7 linked regions of the Homo sapiens genome follow. The protein of the gene in region 7 purifies or fractionates together with the protein of the main gene of each other region. This does not show direct contact. Each region holds a gene or a part of one and is shown on either strand. Other genes may lie near its edges.

Region 1 (3,500 bases), on a different chromosome or scaffold from region 7:
TGTTACAGATCGCTACTGAAGCAATAGAAAACTTCCGAACCGTTGTTTCTTTGACTCAGGAGCAGAAGTTTGAACATATGTATGCTCAGAGTTTGCAGGTACCATACAGGTAATAACCGCTGAAGAGTGGGAGGAGAGTGTGAATAATTTTTCAATCATCATATTTGTTTTCAGAGGGATTACTTTGGCTAGAAGGTAGGGAGCAAGTGGAGAAAGTGCTCGAAGGTAAACCATTGAGAAACAGTTGTAATTATGCAGGAGAGAAAGTACAAGACCCTGAACTAAGGCAGGGACATCTCTGAGGTAGAACCTGTAAGAATGGGTCACTGATGAGAAGGGAGGGAGACATGATGCTGAGAATGACTATCTGATGTCCAGGTAGGATATGACCCTATAATTTGCTCTAGTTGAAAATGAGTTATTTATGGAACCTGAAATTTGAGGTACCTGTGGGACACAGAGAGGATGGTGCTTCCTGGGTTTACCTGTCTTTCTGCTTTTTACCCCTTCTCCAGTGCAGACCTTCTTCCTTTAATACAGTCATCCCAGTGAGGGCTCTAATAAGTGGTGTGAACATAAGCAAGCCCAACCTTTCTGAGTCTGTTTCTTATAATAAAAGGAAAGCTGGACTTTATTGATGGATTTTTAAGCTTTTATTTAAAAAAAATGATGGTAGAGCCTTTTTGTCTAAAAAAAAATTATTTGAAATCTTCATATGTGATGAAGGTAAAAGCAGAGTTGATCTGGTAGCAGGAGGGGTTGGAAGCCCAGGGCTGCCCACTTGCTAACCTGCCCCCACCCACACCTCCATATCACTGAGCTGGATCCATATCATGATTCTAGAATGTCAACCCCTTTTTAAAGCCTTCTCTGAGACCCCCGAAGAATTTAGTGCTTCTCCTTTCTTCCTATAACAGATTATTCATAAGGCACCTCTAATGCATAAATAGTAATTCAACTCAAGTCAGGTCTCCTAAGTCAAGAACATGCCTGTTTCCTCTATGTCAACCCATCATGGCCCCTGCACCTTGTAGGTGTTGGGTAACTGTGTGCAGAATGAATATTTACGTAGAGTACTTCCATACTGTGTGTCCAAAAGTGGGGAGAAAGGGAGATAACTTTTACTTATTGATCCCTAACCGGCTCTTTACAGTCATTGGATTATTTTCTCTTTACATCAACACTTTGAGGTGTAGTTAATTCTACATTAAAGATAAAGACACTGAGTCTCAGAGGTTAGGCAGTTTCCCAAATTTGCACAACTGTTAAGTGTAAAGTGAGGACCAAACTTAGTTCTTTGGAAACGAAACCCATTTTTGTTGGTCATGCCTCTGTGCCCTACTGCCAACCTATCAAAAGTTACATTTTAAGGACTGAGAAATGAAAGTGGAATGAGTTTTCAAATGTCTTCTTTTCAGAAACTCTTTGAGGAAAGCACACATCTTTGGAATTACATTTTCCTTCACCCAGGCAATGATGTATTTTTCCTATGCTGGATGTTTCCGGTTTGGAGCCTACTTGGTGGCACATAAACTCATGAGCTTTGAGGATGTTCTGTTGTAAGTATTGGGCTATTATTTAGTTAAGCTCTAAAAATAAAGCTGGGATGAACATGCTTCATGTCTAGATAGGAAACCCTACTGTGAAGCCTCATGAAGAGATTCTGGTGATTCCTAAATCGGCATTTCTGCCTCTGAGTCTTCATGTGCCACCATTGAAGCACCCCCTTTCATTTGGAGGAGCAGTAACTTCTTTCCTCATTGCTGGCTCACACATAGTTGACCTTTTCAAATCTGTGACTGAGTGGAGTGATTCCATTCGGAGATTTTGAGAAGGCCTTGGCATTTGGGAAGAAGCCTAGCCCTGAGCAAGGAGTCTGACTGGCTCCTTTTAAAGGACTTTCTTACAGAGCAAGTAAAATACAGATGTGTTGTACTAAGTTCTGCAAGCCTTTGGCAATTCCAGGATATGTTTACTTTCCCTTGATAAGAGAGGAATTGGAAGGTAAGAGCCAAATGAATTCAGAAATGACAAAGGAAAAGTTATATTGGGATTTTTCTGCTACATTGTTCTGAATGTAGATAATTGTACCTCGGTCAGAGGAAGATAAGCCTGAAGCAATTATACTACAAAAGTACCCAAATATGCAATTTGGTGGTCAAAAGTATGTGTAATCTTTCTGAGCTTCTAGATTTGGAGGTGGGTAAGATTCTGCCTCTTGATAGCATAACATAATTAGTAGCGATATAATTTTATATTTAAACCAGAATCATATAAGCCTGGCAGTATAATGTGTTAGTATAGTATTTCTGTCCTTTTTAAACATTGAGTTGTTCATGCATTACAGTTTGCTCAGGATGACCCCCAAAAAGACATCTAAATTTCCATTAAAGATGTACATTGGACAAATGATATGCAGGTGCTATTTGTGATTATGGCCTAGAGATCAAAACCAAGTATCACTGGCATTGGGGCTTTGATTAGATAATTATTTGATATATTGCTTTACTCCAAAAAATTGAATTGATGAAAGTTGCTGACATTGGGGCATTTAGGTTTGCAAAATCAACCTTCCAAGTTAAGGAAAAGGAAGACCTGTCTGAAGAACAGTGCATTAGAAAAAGGTCCCATAGGTTTAAATGATCACAAGTCCAAGATTAACTATCGGTATTTTATTTAGTGCTAGTTAAACAAACAAACAAACAAAAACTAATGACACAATATGCTACACAAACATAGGCATAGAGTCCAGAGGAAAGAAAGCGATGAATTCCCTGTATTCTGGGCGGGTTCCCAAGTATTATGTCTGTTCCAGGCTTGTGTTTAAAAAAAGCATATTAATAAATGTGTCTAGAGAAGGGCAGTGAAAGGAGTTATCAAAGAAGCAAAGGAGTTTTTAGCAATATTTCAAGACTTGTAGGCCTGTCTTATGTAAAAGGAAGTAAATTTTTTCTTCAGTTTGAAAAAGAACTGTTTAACAATAGACAATCAAACATGCTACTTCCTAAAACAGAGGATGGAAGCCAATTTAGGGGAGGTGTCCAGGCACGAACATGGAGAGCTGGACTTGATACCTGTAAGGTCCTTCCCAACTTTAAGTTGCTGTGATTCCCATGTCATAGATAAGAACGTCAATGCATCTTAAGAGCAACATGATATCTGGCTCTGTAAGAAACTTTCTTTTGGTTGCACAATTCATAGGTTTTTAAGAATCTGATGTAATTCCAACATCACTGACTGTATCCGTTGTTGATTACCACAATAATGCTGTGTAACAACCAGCCACTAAACCTCAGAGACATACATATTTTTGCCCACAAACCTATGGGTTAGCTGTGAAGTTCTACTGATCTGGATTAGGCATAGTGGATCTCGGCTGGACTTACTCATGTGTCTGTAGTGGATTGTGTCTGTAGCTGGTTGGTTGGGATTCAGACAGCTCTCCTCCATGTGTGCCTCATCCTCCAGCAGGCTATCCTGGGTTTGAGACAGTGGCAGAA
Region 2 (2,822 bases), on a different chromosome or scaffold from region 7:
TTTTTAGTAGAGACGAGGTTTCACCATGCTGGTCAGGCTGGTCTCGAACTCCAGACCTTAAGTGATCCGCCCGTCTCAGCCTCCCAAAGTGCTGGGATTACAGGCGTGAGCCACAGTGCCTGGCCAGCAACAGCATTATAACTTGTCTTAGAGAATACATACTAGCCAGCCAGGCGCGGTGGCTCACATCTGTAATCCCAGCACTTTGGGAGGCCAAGGCGGGCGGATCACCTGAGGTCAGGAGTTCGAGACCAGCCTGACCAACATGGAGAAACCCTGTCTCTACTAAAAATACAAAATTAGCTGGGCATGATGGTGCATGCCTATAATCCCAGCTACTCGGGAAGCTGAGGCAGGAGAATAGCTTGAACCCAGAAGGCGAAGGTTACGGTGAGCCGAGATCACGCTACTGCACGCCAGCATGCCAGCCTGGGCGACAGAGCAGAACTCCATCTCAAAAAAAAAAAAAAAAAAGAGAGAGAATACATACTAGCCATTGGTTGGATGCCATTAAAGAAATATTTTATTTTGTCTATATCATTGTAGATGCTAGTACCCTTAGATTAGTAAAACAAAACTACCATATGATCTTTATTTAAAAAGCCTTGGGTTAAGCTCTGGAGAATTTTCATAGGCAAATTCTTCTGTATGAGCTGGATCAGTAAACACGCCAATAAAATCTATCTCCAGGAAGAATGGACCATCCACTTTATCAGCCAAGGTGAATCCTATAGAAGAGATCTAAATTTAAAATACAGAAATTGATTAAAATCTCATACAGTGACGTACTGAGATTATTCCAGGAGTTTAAAATCCCATCAGGTGATGATTATAACTGGGTTTTAATGCTATCAGCCCTTAGCAAATACTACTAATTCTCCCATAGCATACTGTAAGAGGAAATACAAGACTGCTTTTCTTTCCTCATTCAACTTCCTCCCCTCTCCTCATTAGGTAGTGCCACTTAAGACTAGGAAGGACGGCCGGGCGTCGTGGCTCAGGCCTGTAATCCCAACACTGGGAGGCCAAGGTGGGCAGATCACAAGGTCCAGTTAAAAACCAGCCTGCCCAATATGGTAAAACCTCGTCTCTACTAAGAATACAAAGATTAGCCAAGTGTGGTGGCAGGCACCTGTAATTCCAGCTACTCAGGAGACTGAGGCAGGAGAAATGCTTGAACCCGGGAGGTAGAGGTTGCAGTGAGCCGAGATCATGCCACTGCACTCCAGCCTGAGTGACAAAGCAAGACTCCATGTCAAAAAACAAAAAGACTAGTAAGGACGACATGAATGCCTAATGGAGTTCCTTGAAGCGTTCATAAACTCTTATTTTAAAGCTAAATTAGGAGAGAAGGGAGGGGGGAAAATAGCTAAAGTAAAATGTAGGCATGCTAAAAAATGATCCTTCTAAAATTCCTTCAGGATGGGGGTATGGTTCATAGGAGAGGTCTAAGTCAGCCTCTGGCTGGGTATAAGAGCAGTGGCCCTGAGAAGAAATATTCATCTGCCAGCCTTCTCAAATGAACTCAGTCTCCCCAGAGTTCCGATTCATTAAAAATGATACAGTTCTGAGTGAAAAATACAGGAATATGTTACCTTATCAAGCGGAAGCTCATGCTGAACATCCCGGATTCTTCCTCGATTAGAGAAGAAAAATTTGGAAAAAGGAATCTGAAAGAAGAAACCATTTACTTCATAACTGAAATGTAAGCAATTGAGGCATCTGCATGTAATTGTAACGATAAAATGAGTTTACATTTATTCTAAAATTATGTCATATATGTATTATGACAAATGGCTAGCCATTTGGATCAAAGATATAACTCAGGCCAAACGATAAAGGGTTAACTATGAAAAAAATATTTGTAACATTTATGGAAAAAAGACTAGTATCCTAAACACAGCTTTTTTTTTTTTTTCTTTCTGTGGAGAATGGGGTCTCACTTTGTTGCCTGAACCCGGGAGGTAGAGGTTGCAGTAAGCCAAGATCACACCACTGCACTTCAGCCTGGGCGATAGAGCTAGATTCTATCTCAGAAAAAAAAGAAAAAAGAATTTTAACGTTTCCCTTCCTTCCTACATTAGAAACTGAACTAAAAGAAATGTCCTATTCCTTCTACTCTTGAACTTTCAAGTGTGCCTTTTTATTCATCAACTTTATTTTCATATTTCTTCTCTATGTAATTTACTTATTATTAAGCACGATCTTTTAAAACTATATCTGGCTTTAATTGTTTGTGTTTTGTTTTGAGATAGGGTCTCACTCTGTTACCCAGGCTGGAGTGCAGTGGTGCCATCTTGGCTCACTGCAACTTCCACCTCCCAGGTTCAAGCGATTCTCCCACCTCAGCTTCCTGAGTAGCTGGGACTATAGGCGCACACCACCACACCCGGCTAATTTTTTTTTTTTTTTTTTTTTTGGTAGAGACGGTGTTTCACCATGTTAGCCAGGCTGGTCTTAAACTCCTGAGCTCAAGTAATCTGCCAACCTTGGCCTACAGGTATGAACCACCACACCCTGCCTAAATAATTATACAGAAGCTCTCCAGGATATATTCCTAAATTTTAAAAACACAAAAAACAGGTACAGAGTATGCTAATTTTATTTATATTTTGAGTTTAACAAAGGAAGAAAATGGCTGGGCCTGGTTGTGCATGCCTGTAATCCCAGCACTTTGGGAGGCCAACACAATAGGATCAACTGAGCCCAGGAGTTCAAGACCAGCCTGGGAAACACGGTGAAACCAAGACTCTAGTAAAAAAACAAAAAACTTATCCAGCCATGGTGGTGCATCCTTGTAGTCCTGGCTATTCAGGAGGCTA
Region 3 (3,500 bases), on a different chromosome or scaffold from region 7:
GGCAGGGCCGGGGCCCCTGGGAACTGGAGCGGTGGCACCCCACAGGTCCAGAAGGCACAGAGAATGGCAGGTAAGAGGCCAGGGAGGGCCTGGTGCAGGGCCGTGCCTACAAGCTGGGAGGGCCACAGTGGGGCCACATCTGCCCGCCCACCCACTCTCCTTCCCCAGGAAAGGGCCTGAGAGCTGACCCCCTGGGCGGCTGGTCCCGAGGCTGCCCACTCTGGCCCCAGGACACTCCAAGGCCAGCGGGGAGGAGCTGGCAGTCCCACCCAGCCCCGTCAACTCAGGTCAGGCGTCCTGCAGAGAGGTCCCAGCTGGGAAGGGTCACCTGGGACCCCGGTGGTGGCAGCTCACAGCTGCCCCCAGAGCTCACACTGGCTGCACATGCCACACCAGCCCACCGACGCAGTGGAACAGCGGACCCCCAAGGCTGAGCAGCCCCCCATCCACCCTCCTGCCCCAAGACTTACTGAGGGCGGCGGGGACTCGCGCCCAATGAGTGGGGTGTTCTCACAGCGGGGGTTCTGGAAATTAGCGTTCTGGCTCCTGAGGCATGAGGGGAGAGAGGCTGTGAGTGCCTGCTGGCCATGCAGTCCCAGCTGCAGGTCGGGGGGCCCATGGGTAGGCCCGCTGTGCCCAGATGGGCACATCCATTCTCACTGGGGGTCCCACGAACCCAGCACAGTAACAAAGGGCTCAGAGAGGGCCCACAGAGAGACCCCTGCCCACCTTGGCCCAGCCAGAGTCCACTCCCTCCGAGCCACCTGTTCACCATGTAGCTGGGCCCTGAGGTCCTTGGCCACAGAGTCCTTGTGCCCTGGACACGGAACCTCCATGTGACCATGTGGCCTCTCCATGGCCCCTGGACCGTGTTCACCTGGGGCAGGAGGCACTCAAGGCCAGGGCTGCCCAGCCCGGAGGCCGCCCCTTCTCCAGCCCCTTGCCTCGAGCTAGCCCCAGCCCAGATCCGCGCTCTCAGCCGCAGCTGACGTGTCCGCTGGCCCCACTAGGCCCACGTCAACTCACATGTACTCAGTGACCGGGGCGTTGCTGACGGTGTGGGCCGCGGCCGGGATGCTGGTCTCACTGCCGTAGCTGCTGCCACAGCTGTACAGGCTGGGCATGTGGACGCGGTAGAGGCTGTCGTGCGCCTGCCGCGGCCCTGGAGCGGCCTCCTCCTCCCCGTCCTCATCAGGGCCTCTGTGAGGAGGGACACGCAGCACGGGCTCAGGCCCCAGCAGGAAGGAGCTGGCCACAGACCCATGGGGGTCAGTTCTGGTGCAGACAGACACTCCTGGTTCCAGTTCTGGCTCGGCCGTGTGCACACTCCATGTGGGACTGTGGGCAGGTCACCTGGCTCTGCATCCAGCCCTGCCCTTGCGAGGTGGGGTGCTATGAGACCTGTGTGGTCACCCGAGTGCCAGGCCCTGTACTGCGGCCTGTGCATGGCAAGGCTGGCTGGCTGCTTACTGAAAGAAGAGTGCAGGGCCCCTCCTGGGAGAGTGCAGGAGGCCAGGGTGCCTCTTGAAGGCACAGGAGGCTGGGGTGCCTCTTGGCTCTGCAGGATCCAACTGCACCCTTGGGTGGCCTGAGCCAGTTTTCCTAGCCCTGCTGCCCTCTGGCTTTCTGTCTTCCACTCTGCGCGAGCCTCTGGCACTTTGGAGCCTCCACGCCCCAGGAGGTCCCACATGGGACACAGGGTGGGCTGCCTGGCAGCAAGCACTTCAGAAACAGGACAGTGGTAGCTTTTGGCTGCGCAGGGGCCACCAGCCAAGCCCCTCACGTGCAGTGGCTCAAGTGCCCACTCGACACTCCAGCTGTGTCCTCTTACAATGAGGGAAATTGAGGCCCAGGGTGGTTAAGTGACTTGCCCACATCATACAATAAGCAAGGATAGAGACAGAATCTGAATCTAGCCCTGTGGGTCCAGGGCTATGCTCTTATCTACTCCCCTATGTCTACCATCTTTGTTACCACTGACACCATCACCACCACCATCACCGACATCACCAATGCCATCACCATCACCAACATCAACAATGACATCACCATCACCATCACCATCACCACCACCACAACCACCACCACCATCATCACCATCATCACCATCACCACCACCATCACCATCATCACCACCATCACCATCACCATCATTACCACCATCACCATCACCATCATCGTTGGCAGCATCACCATCACCATCACAAAGGAAAATAATAGAAATCCAGACAAAAGGAAGAAATCTGAGCTGAGCTACCTGCCATCCATATTGGGCCACCAAGCAGCAGCCACAGTCCAAGTGGGAGAGGAGGTGAAGGTCTCAAAGATAAGCCATAGGAGCTCTGGCAAGGGAAGGAGCCTGTCACCCCAATACACCACTCAAACCAGTACTGAATGGGAAGACTCAGGCAGGGGCCACCAGGACCCCCACTTCAAAGGTAAGGACATAGTGGCTCCAGGGGAGCTGGCTTCTATCCTGGTCACTTAGCTGGAGGCCACAGCTACCTGGACTACCCCTGGCAGAGCTAAGCCTGCACAGTGGACCACCAACCTTTCCCCCACAGCGTCGTGCACCTGCACCCCATGGTGGGGGACACCTGCCTGGGAGGCGGTACAGAGTAGACAGTCTGAGGCCAGCTCTCAGGGCATAGGGCACAGAGCCAGTCTGGGGAGGCAAGAGACCCCAGTCCTCCCCACTGTCTGCTCTGGACTCCTGCAACCCAGGCCGGGAGCTCCTCCAGGCTGTTTTCCTCCTGTGAAATGATGATGCTCACCTGGGAACCGGCAGCCTCAGAGACACTAGAGAGGCCTAGGGAGGGTCACGAGGTGAGGAGGTGTCTGTCCCTCACCTCTGGGACTGGCACATGGGTGTCCATAAAGGCATGCCCCTGAAGTGTCCCGCATGCCATGTGGCCTGGGGCAAGCTCCTGCGACCCCCCAGGGCCCCTCACCTCTTTTGCTGCCAGGTGTGCGGGACGCTGCAGACGATGGAGCTGAACATGAGGGCTGTGACGAAGGAGAAGAGGGCCAGGTAGATGAGGCCCTCCACGCCGTCATAGCAGAAGCCGGTCAGCGCTTGCACGTAGTCCTGAGGCCGTGGGATGAGATGGCAGGATCCAGAGACAGGGAGGGTGGAGGGGGCAGCGTGAGACCTTCAGCCCAGCCACGGCGGCCTGGACCGCCCCCCAGAGGCAGGGCTGAGGACCCACTGTCTGCTGAGGGTCCCCATCCTCCCGAACAGCTGCTCCCCTGTTCCCACCCTACAAGCTGCCATGGCCCTGTCCCAGGCCCTGCCTCTCACCAGATGCAGGCTGCGGCAGTCCACCAGGGCGGTGAGGTGCTGCAGGTTCACCTCCGTGCCATTCAGCACCTCCTGGACGCGGAGGAGGGGGTCCTGGGGGGCACGCACCGCAGATGGTCAGCACTTCATTTGGACGGGGGACCTCGAGCCAGCCTCGCCCCATCTGGGAAGCCCCCAGGTCTCCCTCCAGCCCATAATC
Region 4 (3,500 bases), on a different chromosome or scaffold from region 7:
TTCTTTAATATTTTAGTTATAAAGGTACCAGATCCTTTGGAAATGCACTTGCCAAAGGGGGGTAGACCTAAGCAAGAATATAAAAAAGATACTGATTCTGATAAGCTAAACTTAGGGTAGCAATTGCCTACAATAAATAAAATGACTTTCATCTGATTGAGATATGAAAATTTCCATTTCTAGTTTTCAGATCCTCCTGGCATAACTGATGTATTTGATGGAGTCAGTAATACATCTGTTAAGAACAATCATTTTCAGCTGATCTTTATAGCTCTCTCAGGTCTAATAAAACAGTACTTGGAGCATTTTTGAAATAAGAATCTAAGACTCAGAAACAGTTTAATATCCCTAATAATTCTGGGGTGATAGGGCTGTGAGGGAATTATGATCAGGAATTATAGTAGTTACTAGACACCCATCTGTAAATGCTATCCCTAATAATTCCCAGACAAGAGTCTGGAATATCCAATTATCCAAAGAAGAGAGATGTTCTTATATTATAACACATTGTTGGGGTCCTTAGACATTCCTCTCCTCTTTGTTTCTTCCAGAATAGCACTTGGATAAGTGTCAGGGTTCAGCATGTGACCTCTCAGACTCTCAGGGTTTGGCTTCTGGTTCAACATTGCTAGCTGTCAACAATGATTAAGTCCCATAGTCTCCCTAAAGCTAAGATTTCTCCTTGTAAAAAGGGAAGGGAAAATTACACTACTACATTACTACCACAGAGTGGTTATGATGATTAAATGGAACAATCCCCACATAGCACTCAGCACAGGACCTGGCAGTTAATAAATGCTCATTAAGTGCTACCTATTATTAGACTTTTATATGTTAACTCTTGAAAGAAAACCTTAAAAACCAACTATCGTAGTCCCTTTTCCTAAGGATGAGATGAATGAGGTCCAGAGAAGCAATAACTTGCCTAAAATCTGGTTGGTAGAAATACTGAGACTAGAACCCTGGTCTCTTTATTTCAGTTCAAAGATCTTTTCCCTGCATTATATTACAAGGCAGGTAGGACAGAGAATATCCTAGTAAGGTCCTGGTTGGTATTTCCCAAAAGCATCAGATCACAACAACAGCTAAGATAAAAAAGAAAATGCAGAAACTGAGACAAAACATAACACCTTAATAGAGAGAAAGAACTGTAGGGCTACAGTTAAGGTGAGGATTTAGAGTTCAATCAGTTTGATCCTCATTTTGTCACTGGCTGTATTTGTGGCCAGAATATCCATTTACTTTGTCCCTATTCTTGGAATATAAAAATAGAAAGAAAAATATTATCAAATGACATTGGGCTGTTGTCAAGAAAAGCCAATAAAAATGATTACTCTAGCAATATAAAAGTGCTCCATAAAAGCTTAATAATCAACAGTATTTAAGAGGTATACCACTGAGTATCTGACAGGGTGCCCATGTTTTATAAACAGCATTTATGGACTTCCACAACCAAAATTTTCATTCTTTGTGAGTTGTGTATAAATTTAGGAAGTGGTTGAAACCACATTTCAAATCAAAGCCGCTCACGAGGCACCCTGCCAAATAAGTGTAAATATCCTTGGAAAATCTCACATCTAACACACAGCTTGGTAGAAGTGGACCTATCTTTTGGAAAGCTGAAAAATAGATGGTTACCTTGGGTCTTAGGGAAAATATTGTTCTGGGAAACATAAATAATTTTTTAAATTCAGAAATATGAGCTGGGTATTTCATTTTCTTATACACAATTATCATTCTAGAAATTCTAAATTTTGCATCTATTCTTTTCGTTAATAATTTGAGTATCAGGACATACATTATATGCAACGTTTTTATAGTAAGCAGCAGACTGCATCTTAGCCCCTGAAGCACTGCCTCATTCATATTTTGTCCAAAGTGCATTGGCATAGGGAAGTGCCCTGTACCTAACTGCAGAATTTAATTGAGATTATGAATATGATTGTTTTCAATGTCATTCCCTGAATTTCATACTACCCCCATACCAAGTAAGAATTCATTAAGGTCAAAAGAGTACATCTTGTTTTTGTTTTGGTTTGGTTTACTTTTTCTGAGACAGGGTCTCACTCTGTCACCCAGGCTGGAGTACAATGGCACACAATAATGGCTCACTGCAGCCTTGACCTCCCGGGCTCAGGTGATCTTCCTGCCTCAACCTCCAGAGTGGCTGGGACCTCAGGCACACACCACCACACTCTGCTAATTATTTATTATTTGTAGAGATGGGGTCTCCTTCTGTTGCCCAGGCTGGTCTCAAACTCCTGGACTCAAGTCCTCCTGCCTCGGTCTCCCAAAGTGCTGGGATTACAGGCATGAGCCACCGCACCTGGACAAAAAATCATATCTTATTCATCTTTGTGACTCCAATACCTAGCACAGAAGAAAGTTAATATAAAGGGAAGGGAAAAAGAAAGGAAGAATAGAAAAGAAGGAGACAGAATGGGAAGGAAGGAGGGAGGAAGGAAGGATAAAAAAGAGGAGGAAGAGAAGCAGGGAGACACTAAGTTAATTTTTCTATTCAGGGAATGGCAATAGGAAACTCCTCCCTCTTTTCTTGATCATTACTGATGGCATCAATTTGCAAGATGTACTGAGACCATGAAAATAAAATGCAGCCAAGATCAACATACAGAACATTTAAAGTCACTCAGAGCTACACTTCCAACTAGCATCAGTCAAAGACCCTGTGGCAGCCACCCAATCAATATCACTGATTGATAGCCCTCTGGATAGGTTACCTTGGTTGTACCACATCACTGAATATGACCACAGCAGAGTCCTCTACTGGGGAAAATCAATAGGCTACCATGGAGAAGAGGAGACGTAAGAGAGAATTCCTTCATTGAGAGCCAATGAGCACAGTGACACTGCTCAGCAGGAGACCCCAAGGATATAATCACTAAAGGGGGCTTCAAAGTTCTCTACTCATGACTGAATGGGGCAGTGTCCCACAGATGTTTTGAACACTCCTCTTCCTCTAAAGGAATCATTGTCAGAGGTGCGCTGAAATGTTTTGGTCCCAGGCACGTAAAAAGCTGGGCAGGCAGCGTGGCAAACTAGGGAGAGGTGGACATACTTGGAGAATTTAAAACAATGACAATAACCAACCAACTTCAAAGATCAAAATACAAATGACATCCCCCCATAACAAACAGGTTGGTAGTAAATAGTAAAAGAAGTAAAATAAATAACATTTATAGTTCCCCCAACATTTCCATAGGTATTAAAGTAATAATCATATCTAAAATTTTTAAGCCTGATATTCACAGAAATTATTTTCTTAGATTTTCTCTTTGTACCTATTTTTCCCCTTAACCCTGTTGCACCCTCTTAGATTGTCTGTCCACGCCCCTCCAGGCAGCTGTAGAATCCTAAAGCAACCCATGGTAGCCACCCATTTCCGAACAGTACAGCCCAGTGGAAGATGCTGCTACTTTAACCCAGGTTAAAATGAAATACAGTGGAAGGCAGAGGAAATGCAGTACAGGGCACCTGGGAAT
Region 5 (3,500 bases), on a different chromosome or scaffold from region 7:
GCAGTCATCAATACCAGCTATGACCACATGTCCAGCTGCAGAAACGAGGGCTGTAATTGTTGTGAGTACTTCCTCCTTGTTTTGTCAAAAACATGTTCATGCATGCATATACTTGTACTAAGAAAATATCTTCATTTTATTTCCATTCTCCTTTATCATGTGACATAAGATTTACTGACTTCACATCAGCATTTAAGTATTGTTAACTTTATGTAATTAGTATTTTGGTTGGGGACTGGTGCGTTTTCAGTTGTAAGGTTAGTTGTATGACCTTATTATTGTCTTTATTTGCAGATTATGTATGATCTCAGGAGATGTATACGGGTTCAAGTTGACAATGGGTAGACTTCTGATAGTTATACTGAGTGTCAATTGAATTCAAGGATGCAAAGTACTGACTTGTAATGGTTAATACTGAGTGTCAACTTGATTGGATTGAAGGGTGCAAAGTACTGATGCTGGGTGTGTCTGTGAGGGTGTTGCCAAAGAAGATTAACATTTCAGTCAGTGGGCTGGGAAAGGCAGACACACCCTTAATCTGGGTGGGCACCATCTAATCAGCTGCCAGCAGGGCTAGAATATAAAGCAGGCAAAAAAAAAAAGTGAAAAGACTAGACTGGCCTAGCATCCCAGCCTACATCTTTCTCCTGTGCTGGATGCTCCCTGCCCTTGAACATCAGGCTCCAAGTTCTTCAGTTTTGGGACTAGGACTGGCTCTCCTTGCTCCTCAGCTTGCAGATGGCCTATTGTGGGACCTTGAGATCATGTGAGATAATACTTAATAAACTCCCCTTTATATATATCTATCTATCCTATTAGTTCTGTCCCTCTAGAGAACCCTAATACACTTGATTATCAGAAAAAACAACAATTACATAAACTGCTTTTAAGACCATTTTGAGAAAGATGTATTTCTCACTAATTCATTATGGAAAAATGAGAATGTTAGTTCCATTTCACAGGCTTATTTCACATAAGTGGGATAATGTATCAAAGTATAAGGTGAACTGTATAAATGAATAGTTTTTATAAACACATGATAAATGCCTCCATCTAAAACTCTAATAATTTAATAAAATAATCAATGACCAAAGGAACAAAATAAAGGAAAAGCAACCCGTCACATATTTTCTCATTAATATTTATATTCTACTTGTTTATACTTTTTGTCTTTGGTAGCACATATAACTAGATAAGCAACAGCAGATATTAAAACAGTCAAATAAGGGTACCAGAAGTAGTGCTCTATATGAAGGAAGATTGATAAAAGAAACCCTGAAGTTTCTTTCTGGGTTGTCCAATACAACCAACCTAGAAAAATCTGCTCTCTGGGTCTAGGGAACTGAGAGTTCTATGTAAGTGGACTGGTCCACCTAAAGTTAACAGTAGAAGGAGAAATAGCTATTCCCTTAGTAGTCACAAATATAATAGAGCCTCTTTTTTAGTATGAAAATATAAAACACTGTGGATCAGAGGTTATCACAGCTATTATTTAATATCCAAAGTCTGACATTCTCCAGTAAAAACAAGATTTTCTTATCCTGTCATTCATGAATAAAGTAATTCTGCAAATTGTATAAGTTTATTTTACCTTAAAGTTTCCTTGGATAAACTGGCAATTATCAAGAAGAGGCTACCCAAGCTTTTATATTGAAGCTTATTTAAAAACTTACCCATTGTGCACTGCAGCTCTAGGATCACTGCTACTCTTCACTTTGATCATTAGTAAAGAGAGAAGAAGATAGAACATAGCCAAACCAAAGCACAAACGATATACAGCTTTATAGCCAACCAAAATGTTACAAGGGACAACACCTTTCTCATTCTCACAAAATCCAGGAATCTAGAAAAACAAAAGAGTTTATGATCCATCATTTTTTTTCATTAAGTAAAAATAAAAATTACATGTAATCAAATAGTTTAAGTAAAGGTTTAGAAAACTGGCATTTGCTTTACAATTTATGATGAATATGTACTCAAGATGAGTCTGATACATTTTAATCACATACAGTGGGGAAAAAAGAGTTAAATCCCCATCTGCGCAAATCATAAACTACAATACCAACTCTATGCTGGTTGCTTATTTTGAGTTATAGATTTATCCTACATTTTAAAAACTTGCATTCTACTTGAATAGCACGATAGACTTGTTTTAGTAGTGTAAGTGCTATTTCTGAGACTACTGTTCAGAACTATTAATACATCTATTATTCATATATATAAGAATAAATTATTTCCTCCCACTCTTTCCAGTCCCAGCACTCTAAAAAAACTGCTTTTCCAGGATACTAGTCATGTACTGGTTTCCAAACCCAAAGGCTACTGCTTAATCACATTCCTTAATCTCATTTTTATATAGACACTATCCCTGTCATTCTTAAAACTTTCTTCCTAGAACCTATACATTTTCTTTGTTCTTTTCTGTTATCCCTTCCCTCCCAGTTTTCTAGGATCAGAATCAGGTTTTCCTTTCTCCACTAACTCCCTTAAGTAAGAGATTTTGGCAGAGTTCTAGCTCTGCTCACTCTGAATGATCTTCAGCATACGCTGCCATGGTTTCAACATTCAATTTCTATCCTCAAGGCAGTCTCTAGCTCTGATTTCTCTTTTAAATTCCTTCATGTTTTCTACTTACTGCTGTATATTATTATGGACTTCGTGTTTGTGTCTACCCAAAATTAAATGCTGAAACTCTAACCCTCAATGGGAGGATAGTGGGAGATAGGGCCTTTATGTGGTAATTAAATCATGAGGGTAGAGCCCTCAGGATGGGATTAATGCCCTTATAAAAACAGACAGAAGAGAGCTGCTGCTTTCTTTCAAAAATGTAAGATGGCCATGTGTAAACCAGGAATAAGATCCTCATCAGAACTTGACCATGGTGGCACCCTGATCTCGGACTTTCAGCCTCCAAAACTGAGAAATAAATTTTTGTTGTCTTAAGCCACCCAGCCTATGATATTCTTGTTATAGCAGCCTGAACTGAGTAAGACATACATATATATATATATATATACATGTACACGATACAATACCACCAAGTCAACATGTTAGAAACTAAATTTATTATGTGTTCCCAATCTCCTTCCACAACCTGACTCTCTCTAAAAATTTTCCTTTCTAGGTTAATAGCAATACTTTCCTCCCGGTTTTGTAGGACCAGAACCTGGTTGTTATTTATGATTCCATATCACTGCCAATATTTCAGTGCTAGGCTCAGTCAATTTTACATCCAGAAAATCTTATTTCAGGTCCGCTATTCTCTTCTTGATTATACCACTGCAACAGCCTCCATATTTAACTGCTTGACTTTTATACTTTATTAATTGTAAGATTAATCTTCCTAAAGTATAGATACTTTGCTTGAAAAGCTCTTTTATACTCATTATGCTTTCTATTTTTCAATCTCTGTATATGCAAGTTCTAATCATTCTTAGAACATCCTTTTTTCCATGACCCATTGAGATTCTGACACCTGGTTAGAATTATACTTCTTTCTG
Region 6 (3,500 bases), on a different chromosome or scaffold from region 7:
TAGGGAAAGCATTTTTGCTCTTTGAACATTCAACGTGGGTGTCTATGTCCATATTCTAATGCTTTACTCAGAGTCCTATAGGAAGTGATGTACCTGCATATGTACTTTGCTCTTGTACATGTACACAATTTACTCTGCTAGGAATTCCAGATAGAAGCTATATACAGCTAGATCAATTAAGGTGTTTAGCTCTCTGAGCATAGCTCAACATTTATATATATACATATGAAATATGTATATATACACATATTTCATATTATATGTATAATACTGGCTTTAACAATTTTAATGCTTCATTGAAAATCTAACTCGTGAATTTTGCACCCTGGTGCTTGGGAATATGCGATCTGCTCTTGTTGGCTGCTATGTCTGACCCTAGCTCCTGCCTGGAACTGTACTTACTGAAGTTAATCTGCTCTCAGCATCCAAATTTCCCCACGGAGACTTCCTCTTTCTGTCTCCCAGGCTGGAGCAAATTCCCTACACTCACCTGTTCTAATTTCCTGAATTTTCCAACCCATGATTCATTTCCTTCTGATGTGGTCTTCCTGACTGCTGACTGCTCCCACGCTGGAATTTTTCTCTTCTCACTCTTCTCCCCTGCCCTCTCTATTTTTCCTGACCCTGCTTTCCTGCTCAGTTTCTTTTCCTGAGCTGACTACTTGTCCTGCCATCCTTCTTGTCTGGCCTGCCCGTCAGTCTCTCCAAGCCATTATAAAACCAGCATCCCAAGTCTTCATCTCCAAACATAGGCATAGGAGAATATTTCAGCTCTTTCAAAGGGTAACATTACAGTGCATTTATTCAAGGGGGGAAGGTCTATTCTTTACTACAGTTTTCCCTTTTTAAAAAGAAACAAAACTTACCTCTTCTTCTGTGAGAGTGGGGTCTTCTTCCCGAGACTTGTATGACAATGAGCTAAATCTCTGTCAGAACAAACACAAGCCAAGGAAAGTAATTCAGCGTTAACAATCTAACCTTTCTTTTGCACATGTTTCCTCATAATCTGTCTAGCAACGTTTTCAAATGATTTTTATGGAACCACGAAGAAATTATGGGAAGAGAAACACTTATGCAATCTATTACCACATGTATGATGTTCGGGGATATCTAGTAGTATTATCCTTAGAGAAATTTCCTCTAATTTTGTATTTGCATCTGTAGGTACAAAGAAGCCAAAATAATTATTTAGACTACTGTTTCAATTCCTAATTGTCACTGAAGGATTGATCATCCATGGAGGATTAATATTTAAAAACATGGTGTTTCTTTATCAAATGCCTGAATTTTATACTTCTACAGTTTGCTGGCGTCATCAGAAAGATCCTTAAGTCATTTGGAAACTTCAAAGCTAATGGAGAAACTGACTCACATTTTGTGTCTTGCCCCCTGCCTGATTTCTGAAGGATTTTGGCTCTTGGTTTACTGATTCTCTAACACATCCCTTGTCTTAATTTTTGGTGACCTCAACAAACGTGTACCCTTCTAAATCCCGCCCTTCAGTTCCTTGACTTTCCCTTCCCCCACTGATTTTATGCTCTATCTGTGTCCCCTCTCCATGTCCACCCCCGGCCTCAGCACCCTCATGGCTGCACCCCAGGCCTTTCTAAACCACAGCCTCTCCACCAGCCCAAGTCCTTGCAACCCCTTTCAGACCAGCGCTCGTTGTCAAAGCTCACTCCTTCTGTAACCCAGTTCCAATGCTCCTTCAACACCATTGGGACCCATTCATGCTTTCAAAGTCTGCCCTTCTCCTTGGTGTCCTGTACTGCTTTACTAAGCTTAAGCTCCATAGTCAACTGCCAATCATACGTGAACTCAACCCTCTAGTGAGCCCTTAAAGCCGCTCCGTATCATCCGATGCTTCCCCAGTATACTCAGTCTCTGCTCAACTCACAGTCTACTTTGCATCTTCTCCTCTTCTCCCCAGACTTCCAACACCTCCTCACCTATCTTCACTCTGAGCAGATGATCTTGCTTCCTAGTTGGCTAAGAAAACTGAAGGAATCAGAAGAAATTTGTATCAACTCTTAGCCCCACCCTCAGCCTCTGCGTTAATCTATTTTCTTTCCTCCCTGTCAAATGGATTTTCCATGTTCCTCCTTCAGGTGATCCCCTCCTTCCTACACACTAGACCCTGTCTCCACATACCTATGTGTGAATACTGAGCCAGGAATTCTCCCAGTGTGGGATCATTCCCAGCCACATGCAAACATGCTGTTGTTTCTCTCATTCTAAAACCAAAACAAACCTAGTCCTACTCCGAAATTCTACCTACTCATTATCTCACTTCCTTTTTTTTTTTTTTTTTTTTTTTGACAGCGTCTCACTCTGCCATTCAGGCTGGGATGCAGTGGCGTGATCTTGGCTCACTGCAGCCTTGACCTCCCAGGCTCAAGCCATTGTCCCACCTCAGCCTCCCAAGTAGCTGGGACTACAGGTGCATACCACCATGCCCAGTTAATTTTTGTATTTTTTGTAGAGACGGGGTGCTGCTACATTGCCCAGGCTGGTTTCAAACACCTGGTTTCAAGTGATCCACCCACCTCGGCCTCCCAAAGTGTTACGATTACAGGCATGAGTCACTGCGCCCAGCCTGTCTCACTTCTTTATAGCAAAATCTTTTAAAGAGTGGTCTAAAAAGTCAACCGAACAATTTTTCTCTTCCTATTCTCTTTCTAATCCATTTCAGTCATGTTTCTGCCTCTACCATTCCACAGAGACTGCTCTTGTCAAGGGCACCAATGAGACTCGCCTTCCCTGACCTACCCGCTGCATTTGGCAGAGCGGCCCGCCACTCCTTCCTTCCTGGACACGTTCTTCACTGCCTTCCAGGACTCCACAACTTTCCTGTTTTTGTTTCCTACTTTGGTCTCTTCTGCTGGTTCCTTTTCCAGATCTCTATTCTTGGAGCTCTTCCAGGCTCTATTTACACTCACCTATCCTGTGACCTCACCCAATCTCATGACTTTTAAAACCACATTCTGTGGATGACTCCCACATCAGCAAATCCAGCCCTGGCCTTTCCTCTTTACCCGGCTCATCAATCCAGCTACCATCTGATAAGCTCTACTTGGAAGTCCAATCGGTATCTCAAGTTGAACGTACCCAACACTGACTGCTGGTTCTCCCCCCAAAACCTGCTCTGCCTGTATCCTCTTCATTTCAGTTAATGGCAATTCAATCTTTCCCACATGTTGGGCCCAGCCTCGTACTCATCACTGCCTCTTCTTTATCTCACTAAGCGTAGGATCCATCCGCAAATCTCTTGGCTCTGGCTTAGCTTTTCTCATCACCTCTGCTGCCTCTTCCCTGATCCAGGCCACCGCCATTTCTAATCTGGTTTATTAGAGTCACTACCCAATTGTTCTCCTCACTTCTACCCTTTATTTCAAAACTGGAGTCAGAGGGATCCTTTGAAAACATAGGCTAGGTTGTGCCATTCTGCTGCTCGGGACTCTAGTGACATTATTAGTGTTCAGACTATAAGCCAAGGCCAT
Region 7 (2,739 bases):
TTGTGTGCATCATTAACTAACAACAATTCTATTTGCTTTCTACTAAGCATAAAATAAGAATTCATAATGAAATAAAACCTACCCCAAAGATCCATTCTTATCATTGATTTAAAATTGAATGTCTTTACCATCCAAAAAATTAGAGGTTCACCAATGATAGTTAAGCACATATATGTGGTACAAATTACAATGGAAAAGAGAAATGATTTCTTCATAAAAGCTGTACGTTCTTAATTATAAAGAGAGATAATAAATTCTTCAAATGAAATACTATACAATGAACTATAATAAAATATAAATACTATATATGTGAAATATACTCAGCTTCATAATTTATGGTCAACGTTGTTATTCACACACATGCACACATATACACCCATAAATATATATATGACTTTTCTAGGTATCTGTTTTGAAATTACTCACATACAAACACTATGGAAAAACTGATAGAAATATAAAATGTTCCAGACACCATCAGTTTGTTTTCTGCTAGAAGACCCACGATGCTCCCCTTGTGAATCTATGGAGTTGAGGGTTTCTCTTCTTTCACTCAGCGTGTCATCTGCCACAAAACTGAAAGAAAGGTCTGTTTTAGCTTCCTACTTCCCATAATCAGGATGAATGAGTGGAATGAAGGATACATGATTGCAACAGTTTGGCAAAGCAGGAGTACAAGTTTGCTCTGCTGTGTCCTAAGATTCCAAGTTGATGTGATTATACACAGAAAGTAAATGGCAAATAACATGAGGAAGGAGGTCACAGTTTGCAAAGCTTTTATATGGACCTTGGTGCTGGGATCTTGAGATCCTTTGCTATGGAGCCGCATCTTCTTGAGATGTTTACAAAGAGAACAGATTAACAGCAGAAAACATATTAGGCTCAGAGTAAAGGGTATGAGGTTTGCTAGAGTAGTTACAGTCAAGCTTGAAAGGTGTATTGCATTCCTCAATTTGATCTTCCAAGTCACATTTCCTTCATATTCTTTTGTCCACACTCTCTCATCCATGGTTATCACAGCAAGATTACAAATCAGAAATACCAAGGGCCCCAACAGTATCACCAGAACAACACTCTTAATTCTCTTCTTTAGGTGGAGAGAAATAAGGTTGGAGAAATTGGCAATCTTGAGCAAACAAAATATGCTGAGGCTAGCAGCAAGCCACATGCTGAAATGGTTCGTTACAGCCCAGGCATTAGAAGCAACAATTCTTACTTCTAAACCATATAAAGCAGAATTAAACACAGTTGCATACCAAAGGAATAACATGACCCAGAGTAAACCAATTCTGGAGACCACCAGAGCAGTGAGAATTTGCTCAGCTGAGGAGATCTTTCGTGTGTTAACCCAGTCAATGACATTTACTAGGGCTATGAAGCCATTGGCAACATTTCCAAGAACAAATGCAAACACTACCAGAATTGATGAAATGATGAGCAGAAAACACATCATGTTTGAACAGATAAAAAAATGCAGGCTTAGTAACACTTGTTCTGAGTCCTTTAACATCCAGATGTTAACTTCGATGAACACTTGATTACTAAATGTGCAATAACATTTTCTGCCTTTAAATTCAGTGACTAGTGTCAACAGGCAAGCACCAGCATATGCTAATAGATGAATTCAAAACTGTCTTTATAGAAATAGAAAAGGTCATTATTCTCAAAACAGCTCAAATTCACTCCTCTTCATATACATTCTCTCCTTGCTATATGCTGTACTTTTTTATACTGAGGTTGAAGTGGAAAATGAATTCTCATGTGTTAGTATGCAAAGAAAGGCATATTATTTTTCATTGTTTTGCAATTTTTTTCCTTGTTTAACCTCTCCATAATTTGTATACAGCATCTTCAGTTGTTCCATAGGGAAATTGTAAAACCCAATACATATATCATATAGTAAATGTCTAAATTGTTAAAGGAGCTTGGTCATAACTAGGATCATACCAATATGGACTTATTTTTATGCCAGATTTAAATACCAGATTCTAAACCTTTTATCAAAATCATCCAAGATTATCTTGGAAATCCCTGGGAGGCTGATACACTTTAAAATCTGGTTTCTGATAACCAATAAATTGATATGACATCATTGTTAATAAGCTCCTAAACACATAGACACACATGCACTCACACCCTTAGGGCATGGAAGGAATTATTTTCTTATAATTCCCCAAATGGAAAATGAGTTTCCAGGAACTCATCCAGGTGGTATTAGTCTTATTTTCCAACTCAGGGCTGTCAGACAATGAATAATATTTATCAAACATGTTTCTCAAGCTTAGGCCTTTGGTATATTTACACTCAAGTCTGTTTTGTTTAAACATTAATTATTTAATTAAAATGTTCAGCAATTTTGTAAATATTTCTAAGTACCCTACTCTTTGTCACATAATCCTGCAGTACCCTCCCACCTCAGGCAGGGTGACTACCTTGACCTTGGACTCTGAATTCACTCACGTAATTTGCTTCAGTCAACAGGAAATTAGTAGAATTTACAGAGATTTAAGATGGCTTCCATATTGAAGTTTCCTGCTCTTTTCCACTAACCATGAGGACATCATCTGGCTAGCACACTGTTCCCAGAAGAAGAAAGAGAAACTAATGGAGTCAGAATGCCACTGCCTTATCTACCCTAAATCAGCCAAACTAGCGGCAAGATGCAGTACGTGGCCCATCTCCAATCACCAGAGCCATCCACCAAACCTAGGTTAGAAAAATGTAATCCAAAGACATAAT

What was found.
Region 1: the proteins of TAS2R19 (region 7) and ABCB1 purify together in Homo sapiens (affinity purification with mass spectrometry; one large-scale study listed by BioGRID and IntAct). This does not show direct contact.
Region 2: the proteins of TAS2R19 (region 7) and NDUFAF1 purify together in Homo sapiens (affinity purification with mass spectrometry; one large-scale study listed by BioGRID and IntAct). This does not show direct contact.
Region 3: the proteins of TAS2R19 (region 7) and TTYH3 purify together in Homo sapiens (affinity purification with mass spectrometry; one large-scale study listed by BioGRID and IntAct). This does not show direct contact.
Region 4: the proteins of TAS2R19 (region 7) and GAP43 purify together in Homo sapiens (affinity purification with mass spectrometry; one large-scale study listed by BioGRID and IntAct). This does not show direct contact.
Region 5: the proteins of TAS2R19 (region 7) and SERINC1 purify together in Homo sapiens (affinity purification with mass spectrometry; one large-scale study listed by BioGRID and IntAct). This does not show direct contact.
Region 6: the proteins of TAS2R19 (region 7) and PAG1 purify together in Homo sapiens (affinity purification with mass spectrometry; one large-scale study listed by BioGRID and IntAct). This does not show direct contact.

The regions. Positions count from the first base shown.
Region 1 is NC_000007.14:87,517,385-87,520,884, reverse strand, and holds part of ABCB1 (ATP-dependent translocase ABCB1), read left to right. Parts: intron 1-8; coding exon 9-109; intron 110-1,418; coding exon 1,419-1,559; intron 1,560-3,500. UniProt on the Homo sapiens protein: Translocates drugs and phospholipids across the membrane. Catalyzes the flop of phospholipids from the cytoplasmic to the exoplasmic leaflet of the apical membrane.
Region 2 is NC_000015.10:41,386,853-41,389,674, forward strand, and holds the end of NDUFAF1 (complex I intermediate-associated protein 30, mitochondrial precursor), read right to left. Parts: intron 1,671-2,822; coding exon 1,596-1,670; intron 742-1,595; coding exon 592-741; 3' UTR 501-591; downstream 1-500. UniProt on the Homo sapiens protein: As part of the MCIA complex, involved in the assembly of the mitochondrial complex I.
Region 3 is NC_000007.14:2,655,986-2,659,485, reverse strand, and holds part of TTYH3 (protein tweety homolog 3), read right to left. Parts: intron 3,395-3,500; coding exon 3,302-3,394; intron 3,089-3,301; coding exon 2,952-3,088; intron 1,201-2,951; coding exon 1,027-1,200; intron 547-1,026; coding exon 471-546; intron 1-470. UniProt on the Homo sapiens protein: Calcium-independent, swelling-dependent volume-regulated anion channel (VRAC-swell) which plays a pivotal role in the process of regulatory volume decrease (RVD) in the brain through the efflux of anions like chloride and organic osmolytes like glutamate.
Region 4 is NC_000003.12:115,679,010-115,682,509, reverse strand, and holds part of GAP43 (neuromodulin), read right to left. Parts: intron 1-3,500. UniProt on the Homo sapiens protein: This protein is associated with nerve growth. It is a major component of the motile 'growth cones' that form the tips of elongating axons. Plays a role in axonal and dendritic filopodia induction.
Region 5 is NC_000006.12:122,454,808-122,458,307, forward strand, and holds part of SERINC1 (serine incorporator 1), read right to left. Parts: intron 1,844-3,500; coding exon 1,674-1,843; intron 1-1,673.
Region 6 is NC_000008.11:80,979,569-80,983,068, forward strand, and holds part of PAG1 (phosphoprotein associated with glycosphingolipid-enriched microdomains 1), read right to left. Parts: intron 927-3,500; coding exon 867-926; intron 1-866. UniProt on the Homo sapiens protein: Negatively regulates TCR (T-cell antigen receptor)-mediated signaling in T-cells and FCER1 (high affinity immunoglobulin epsilon receptor)-mediated signaling in mast cells.
Region 7 is NC_000012.12:11,021,119-11,023,857, forward strand, and holds TAS2R19 (taste receptor type 2 member 19), read right to left. Parts: upstream 1,503-2,739; 5' UTR 1,454-1,502; coding exon 554-1,453; 3' UTR 501-553; downstream 1-500. UniProt on the Homo sapiens protein: Receptor that may play a role in the perception of bitterness and is gustducin-linked. May play a role in sensing the chemical composition of the gastrointestinal content.